Linked DNA regions of Homo sapiens. The protein of the gene in region 1 purifies or fractionates together with the protein of each later gene. This does not show direct contact. Each region holds a gene or a part of one and is shown on either strand. Other genes may lie near its edges.

The links.
Region 2: the proteins of SPARCL1 (region 1) and FNDC8 purify together in Homo sapiens (affinity purification with mass spectrometry; one large-scale study listed by BioGRID and IntAct). This does not show direct contact.

Annotation. Positions count from the first base shown.
Region 1 is NC_000004.12:87,526,365-87,530,823, reverse strand, and holds the start of SPARCL1 (SPARC-like protein 1 isoform 1 precursor), read left to right. Parts: upstream 1-1,447; 5' UTR 1,448-1,779; intron 1,780-4,328; exon of another isoform or gene 4,329-4,459.
Region 2 is NC_000017.11:35,124,381-35,128,010, reverse strand, and holds part of FNDC8 (fibronectin type III domain-containing protein 8), read right to left. Parts: intron 970-3,630; coding exon 594-969; intron 1-593.

The DNA.
Region 1 (4,459 bases):
AAGTGTTTTGAGAGATTTGGCTGAGGGCATATTTGCCTAGAAATGTAGGTGGGGGTTTTTGGTTTATTTTGGTTTTATTTTGTTTTTGTCAGTGTTTTTGCTTTTGGCCAGACGTTGGCATGCATTTAGAAAATCTAAATTAAATTAAATTAAATTATAATTATTCATCTGATGATAATGGAACATTTACAGGATGCAAAGCACTGTGCTAGGCACCAGGAGAATGCAGAAAGGGCACATCCCCTTCCTTCAAGGAGTTTACAGCTTTCTCAGAAGCAGGTATGATATATATATGTGTCTATATCACATAATAGAGGGATTATAGATAAGTTACACAAGTGTGGCTGTCAGCCATGGTAGCTGATTTGGAATCCCATCCTGTAAGTTACAGTTGGATACCCTAGAAAAAACACCCTTACTAAGCTTTGGTTTCCTCTTATGTAAATGATAATAGCTAACATTTATTGAGTGTCTGCTACGTGGCAGGGGTGTTCTATGCAGTTTATCATGTTAACTAACTTAAAACTCAGAACAATTGCAGAGATAGATATTATCATCATTTCCATATGTATATCCCTGTCTTATAGATAAAAGCACTGATGCTTTAGAGAGGTTATATAACTTGTCCCGGGTCATAGTTAGGAAGTGGTGAAGATAGGATGCAAATCCAAGCTGGCTGGCCTCAAATTCTGCCAATCCAACCACTGTATGACACTACCCCTCAAATGGGAACACAGTAAAACTTACCATGCGTAGTGAGGATCAACTGATAATAACGCATAAAAAGCTGTTAGCACAGTGTCTGACACATAATAAATGTGTGATAAATGTAGAAGTAGCAGTAGAAGAGATTAGACACATACAAACAACCAGAATCCCGGGCCAAAAATAAGTGCACACCTCCATTCTTTTTATGGGAAACCTCCTTCTTAGATACCAACCATTATAACCATGGAGTTACAGTGGAGAGCTGTGTTGAGGGGAGAACTGCAACATTTCTGAATCAGCATACAAGTGATCTATAATATAAGGAGCAATCATTTTTATATATGTCCATTTCCAAATCTCATTCAAAGAAGGTTAAGGTATCTGAAGTACCCTTCTATTAAAATTCAGACTGTATTTGCTAGAACAATTTCCAATTGAGCAACGTAAAAATGCATCTGCTGCCATTTCTCTTCTTCCCTCCTTTAATCCCTACTCCCCAATTTCCTTTAGAAAGAAACAACAGCATGGAGTTTCTTTTCAAGGTCTTAAAATAAAAATCTCCAAAAAAGGGATGCTGCTTATAAAACCTTTCAGAGTTGTTTGAAAAAGAAAAAAAATGCATAAAGAGCCAAGTGCTTATATTCTGGCCAAGTTATGAGGCTCTGAGAACAAGAGCTTGAGGGGAAGACTGTTAACCCCATCCACGCCACCAGAATTAGCTCTTTCCCTTTTGGTTTGCAAGCACTGCCTGTAAAGCCCTCGCATGAGAGGCCAGCCTGCTAGGGAAATCCAGGAATCTGCAACAAAAACGATGACAGTCTGAAATACTCTCTGGTGCCAACCTCCAAATTCTCGTCTGTCACTTCAGACCCCCACTAGTTGACAGAGCAGCAGAATTTCAACTCCAGTAGACTTGAATATGCCTCTGGGCAAAGAAGCAGAGCTAACGAGGAAAGGGATTTAAAGAGTTTTTCTTGGGTGTTTGTCAAACTTTTATTCCCTGTCTGTGTGCAGAGGGGATTCAACTTCAATTTTTCTGCAGTGGCTCTGGGTCCAGCCCCTTACTTAAAGGTAAGTTGTAATAAATTTACGGCATTATCTAATTGCATTTGTTAAGCTGATTTGCGTGATCTGATAAAGCTGTCAAATATTTTTGCCTAAATAATACAAAGCCATTTATTTACCAAAAAAAGTTTTGTGTGATTTACAGAAAAGATACTTCATAGAGAATTTTACCATTTGTATTCATGTTTTCTTGTTTCCTGCGAAATTAAATAGCAAGTACTAATAAATGATGGTGATTTTAGTGAAGACCAAGAATAGAAATGTGGAACTGTTGATCGCCTCAGTAGCATTCAGATCTTAGTGAAGCCTGAATCCTGAAATGTGTTTTGTAGAAGTACTTTATTACATATATGAAATAAACTATAAAGAAGGTAGTTTTTAAAAAAAATTTCAAATCAAATAATTTGTATGTTTTCCATGTTTAAATTATCTAAAGTTATTCAATCTCCTGAGCCTAACAGCAATGTAGAAACGGAACTTTTTGCTTTTCCAAAAGGTAGGAAAATTTCTCCTTTTATACTATATTCTTGTTTGATTATTTTTAAGTTATTGCGATTATTTTCCCTTTCTTGGTTCCCTTTTACAGCTTTATAACTAATTATTTTTTGCCTCCTACTATCATTTGTTAAGATGCTCACACATAGACCTAAAATTTCTCTAATTCTTGATAATGTCTTATTTACAAAAGCAAAAATGGGAGAAGAGAATTAAAGAGCTAAAGAGATTATGGTAACTCATATTATAATGTACTACCATTTCTGGCTCTCTTTTCTAAAATAAAGCAATAATGTAGGTTGTGCTTATTCATCCTTCCCAGGTATTAAAGGTCACTCTGCAAGAGAAAAAAAGAAAAGAAAGGAAAAGAAAAGAAAAAAAAACATGCTTTTAACTGCAGATCAATACTGTTGAAACAGTACACCAAGAGGTACTGCAGAAAGAGTATCTCTTTTGCACTGCCTTTAATCTGCAAAGAGGTTAAATATGTCACCTTGGCATTGTATCTGAGCTCTCCTCTGGCCCAGGGCCTAAGCACATTGAATAGAAATGTTCACTCAGTCCAAGTCAGCAGAAATCTTTTTTTTTTTTATTCTCCCCTTTCTCGTAGACACCAGCTTTTTTCAGTTCACAGCTTACTCAGTCAAACCTGATGGTTGTGACTATTGTTAACTATGATTTTTTTTTTATTCAAAACACCCTCTTTGGAAAGATTTAAGTTAATATTTCTGTTCATTTAATAAGATCTAGCAAAGCAGAGCAGTTTATTTCATCTACTTATCGTCCAATCAACTAGTGCCACTTTCCACATTTTGGAGAAGAATATTCACATGTTATTTATGAACCTTGCCTTTTTCTTTCAGAGAATTTTTCACACAGCCATTGAGCAATTAGAGTGCTGGCATTTCCTTCCTAGGTCTTTTGAGATTTAATCCCCAGTAGCTCCTCATGGCACAGATTCACATATCAACTAAGTAAAAATAATAGTGATGACAGAAATAAAATGAATAGTGATGCATCTGGACAACTTGAAAACATTATTTATTTCATTTCCTCTTGACTGTTCTTTTTACTCAGTTGACTTAAACACTGCTATTTTACTTAAGTTTAGCACCATATCCAGAACTGGTTGGGAACATTTTTCTACCGAGAAGGGCATAAACAACTTGTTAGAAGATCTGAAGTGCACATAGTCCTCACTTATCCCTCTAGAATGATCTTCAGTGGAGAAGGAGACCCCCATAAATAAATCCAGTAGAACTTCCCAGTAGGCCTGGCTTCCTGAGAGATGTCCAACCAGGCCAGGGTCTGTTTCTTACGGGGCTCACAGGGCATCTTCTGCCAAAGGCTGAGTTAGCGATGATAGCATTACCTAGGGCTAGCCTGGCTTTTGTCTTAGTCATCAAAAGATGGATAGAACTTTGAAAAACAGAGTGCATGGTCTTGATGATTGTTCCAAAGGTGGGGAGGCAATCTAATAAAGTGAATAAGGCCATGACCTGTGGTTTATATCTGACCATATGGACCCTGTTTATATAAGACCGTGGTTTATATCCAAGCTTTACCACAAAATAGCTCTGTGACTTTGGGCAAACAACTTCATCTCTTTGTGCCTCAGTCTCTTCATTCATGGAAATGGGATTATAAAATCAGTAGCTACCTCAGAGATTTGTTGTAAGAATTAAGTGAAGAAAAGAGCCATGTTTGGTACATTAAAGCAATCAATCAATCGTAGATAATATGAAAGTACTGGACTAACTATATGTCCCTATTGAAACTCCGTAGAACGGGAACTGACTCTAGATATTTTCTCAGGGTTTCTTCCTTGTACTTATACGTTTTGCTCTATAATAAAATATGAATGCCAGGTGTATGCCTCTGAGGCAGCACAGCAGAGTGGACAGAGCATGGGCTTCAGAGTCCAATGCATCTGGGCTAGAATCCTGACTCTGCTTCTTACAATCAGTGTAAGCTTTGGCAGTTACTTCCCACCTGCATGACTCAGTTTACTCATCTGTTTAGCAAAATGGGGATAATAATACACACAAATGAGGTCGTTGTAGGAATGAAATGTGATGTTTATTAAATGCCAAGTATAGCACCTGGCAGAGAAGTAAACACATAGGAAAGTTGACTGGTTGCTCATAAGGAATCTCGTATATCAGTGAGGCCTCTGTTACATACTTGCAAT
Region 2 (3,630 bases), on another chromosome or scaffold:
TAGTGTAGGACGGTGTTGTTCGACGTGTAGCCCGCGGACGGGGAGCCACAGCATCCTCTGGGAATCTGTTACTAATGCAAATTATCAGGCTTCACCCTAGACCCTCTAGGGAGGAGGCCCAGCAATTCTGAGTAGCCTCACTCGATCCCAGGTCCTCATCCAGGGCTTCTCACGCTTTCATGTTCCTACAGATCACCTACCATCTTGTTCAAATTGAGATTTCCTCCCTCACTTTCCTGTGAGCTTTTGCTAGGGTCCGCCCCTCCAGGGAATGCCTCCCTCCTCCACCTCTAGATGTTTACATGCTACCTCTACATCCCAGCTCAGATGTTACCAAAAGCCACCAAGCTTATTCCCGCATCTGGAAATATCTTTCCCTCTGAATTCCTGGTGGCACTTGCTCTGAACTTTTCCTACAGCACTGAACCCTTTCTGTCTTGCACTGGAGTTTTTACAGACACATCCTCTCCCTTCCTAAACCGTGAACTTGAGGTCGACATGCAGGTGGCAGGCACCTTCTCACTACCCATGGAGCTCAGCTCAGTGCCTGGCACAATAAGCCTCTGCTGAACGCATGAGCAAGGGAAACGCACCACAGCTGTGGAATTGTTGACGGTGTGCTCAAAGATGAAGGGGGTGTCCGGCAGGTCCACAACCACAGAAGATTCTGAGTGCGTTGAGGAGGTTTCTGTCTCCAGCTCAGGGTTGTCAAGGTCCAGCAGGCCCCTTGTGGCCATCTGGGACTTCGATGGGCATGGGCAGGGGCCGAGCGCCAGGTCCTCATTTTCTGCATTCTTGGCCATTGGGGAGAAGCTGAGTTTGTTCAGCTCCCCCTCCAGCATCCCTGCAAAGAAGCTGCTGTTGGGCTGGGTCACAGCTAATTTGATGGGGTTCAGCAAGGTGGATGAGAAGGCAGAGATGCTGGTCTCATCAGAGCTGCAGTCTGAATCCTCTACTGGCAGCGGCTTCCTGGAGCAAAAGGGGAGACAGGTGAATCAGATGAAGGAGGCCACCCCAGCCCGTTCCACCTGAGGGCAGGCCTTGGGCCTGACTTACCAGCATCCCCAGCCATTTGCAAACAGCTTGGAACAGCCTCATTGCTCTATAGCATTGCATTAGACTCACCAGGGCACTTACTAAAAATGCAGACTTTTAGTCCCTGGTCCCCAGTTAGCATGGGACTAGAGAATCCGCATCTTTAATAAGATCCTGGCTGGGCGCAGTGGCTCACGCCTATAATCCCAGCACTTTGGGAGGCCGAGGCAGGCAGATTCAAGGTCAGGAGTTACAGACCAGCCTGGCCAACATGGTGAAACCCTGTCTCCACTAAAAACACAAAAATTGGCTGAGTGCGGTGGTTGGCACCTGTAATCCTAGCTACTTGGTAGGCTGAGGCAGGAGAATTGCTTGAACCCAGGGGGCAGAAGTTGCAGTGAGCCGAGATCACACCACTGCACTCCAGCCTGGGTGACAGAGTGAAACTCTATCTCAAAAAAAAAAAAAAAAAAAAAAAGCTTAGAAAATCCTGATGCAAGTGTTCTGCAAACCACAATTTAAAAAACATGCTAAAATGGCAAGTCCTCCCTCCAAAGTGGGGTGCAAATGCCCCAGGGAATAACCACAAAGATCTACTGGGGTATGGAAGTAATACATTCAATTTCACTAATGTTTATTTACTATTGTTTAAATTTTAATGGAATTACTAATATTTACTTACATTTTAGTGGCATTTAATAATACCTATTAATATCTAGCACGTAAAATTAACAGAAATACAAATACATATATGGGCCAGGCGCGGTGGCTCACACCTGTAATCTCAGCACTTTGGGAGGCCAAGGTGGGTGTATTACCTGACGTCAGGAGTTCAAGACCAGCCTGGCCAACATAGCGAAACCTTGACTCTACTAAAAATACAAAAAATTAGCTGGGCATGGTGGCGGTTGCCTGTAATTCCAGCTACTTGGAAGGCTGAGGTGGGAGGATCGCTTGAGCCTGGTAGGTGGAGGTTGCAGTGAGCCGAGATCCTGCCACTGCACTCCAGCCTGGGCAACAGAGTGAGACCCTGTCTCAAAAATAAAATAAAACAAATATACATATGTTGGTGTGGATGCTCAAAAACTTATTTCTTCCACTCTGAATTTTTTAAAATTATGAAGTATTTTAGACTTATACAAAAATATCAAGAATATTATATTAAACCTCCATTTACTCCTCATCTACCTTTAGAAATAAAATCTTATCACTATGGGTAAAGCCCCCCAGACACTTCTGTCTCCCACCAAAGTCCCCATCCTTCGACCGACAAGTAATGAGTACAGTAAAGTTTAAATTGTGTATTTATTACTCAATGTGTGTCTTTATAGGTTTCTTACATATTTATGTTATCCCTAGGCAAGATCTATTATTTTTCACGTTTGTAGATGTTGTACAAATAAAAGATATTATTCAGCACATACCCATCTGCAACATGCTTTTTTCACTCAACTTTGTGTTGACATTCATCTATCTTGATACATGTAGCTCTGGTTCAGTCGTTTTTACTGTTTTATGATTTTCCATTACATGGATATTTGTTTTTGTTTTTGTTTTTTGAGACAGGGTCTCCCTCTGCTGCCCAGGCTGGAGTGCAGTGGCACAAACTCCCAGGCTCAAGCCATCCGTCCACCTCCACCTCCTGAGTAGCTGGGACTACAGGTGCACATCACCATGTCTAGCTAATTTTTGTGTTTTTCTGTAGATGCAGGGTTTTGCCATGTTGCCCAGGCTGACTTCGAACTCCTGGGCTCAAGTGATCCTCCCAAAGTGCTTGGATTATAGGTATGAGCCACTGTGCCCGGCCTATATGGATATTTGTATTGTTATGAGATGTTTGCTATTACAAAGAAAAACCTTGTACATGATCCCCACCACTTAACATTTCTTTTTTCTGTTTTTACTCTTTTTTCTTTTTTTTTTTTTTTGAGCTGGAGTCTCGCTCTGTCGCCCAGGCTGGAGTGCACTGGTGTGACTTCGACTCACTGCAACCTCCGCCTCCCTGGCTTAAGCGATTCTCGTGCCTCAGCCTCCCGAGTAGCTGGGATTACAGGCCCACACTGCCACATCTGCCCAATTTTTGTATTTTTAGTAGAGATGGGGTTTTACCATGTTGGTTAGGCTGGTCTCGAACTCCTGACCTCAGATGATTTGCCGGCCTCAGCCTCCCAAAGTGCTGGGATTACAGGCGTGAGCCACTGCCCCCAGCCAAACAAAAAACAATATTTTTTTAACTGATGAAGAACACCAAGCCAAAAAGTTTGGCTTTCAAATCTTTTTTTACCTTTACCCAAAGTAAAATACACTTTCCATGGCAACTTAGTACATGCATATATACGCCTATAACTAAGACAAACATTTCACAGACCAACACTTACTCTGTGTGCAATGGGCTCTGGAATTTCCAATTCTATTATAGTTTATTTTATTTATTTATTTATTTATTTTTGAGATGGAGTCTCACTCTCTCAGCCAGGCTGGAGTGCAGTGGCGTGATCTCAGCTCACTGCAACCTCCGCCTCCTGGGTGAGAGTGATTCTCCTGCCTCAGCCTCCCGAGTAGCTGGGACTACAGGTGCGGCCACCATGTTCAGCT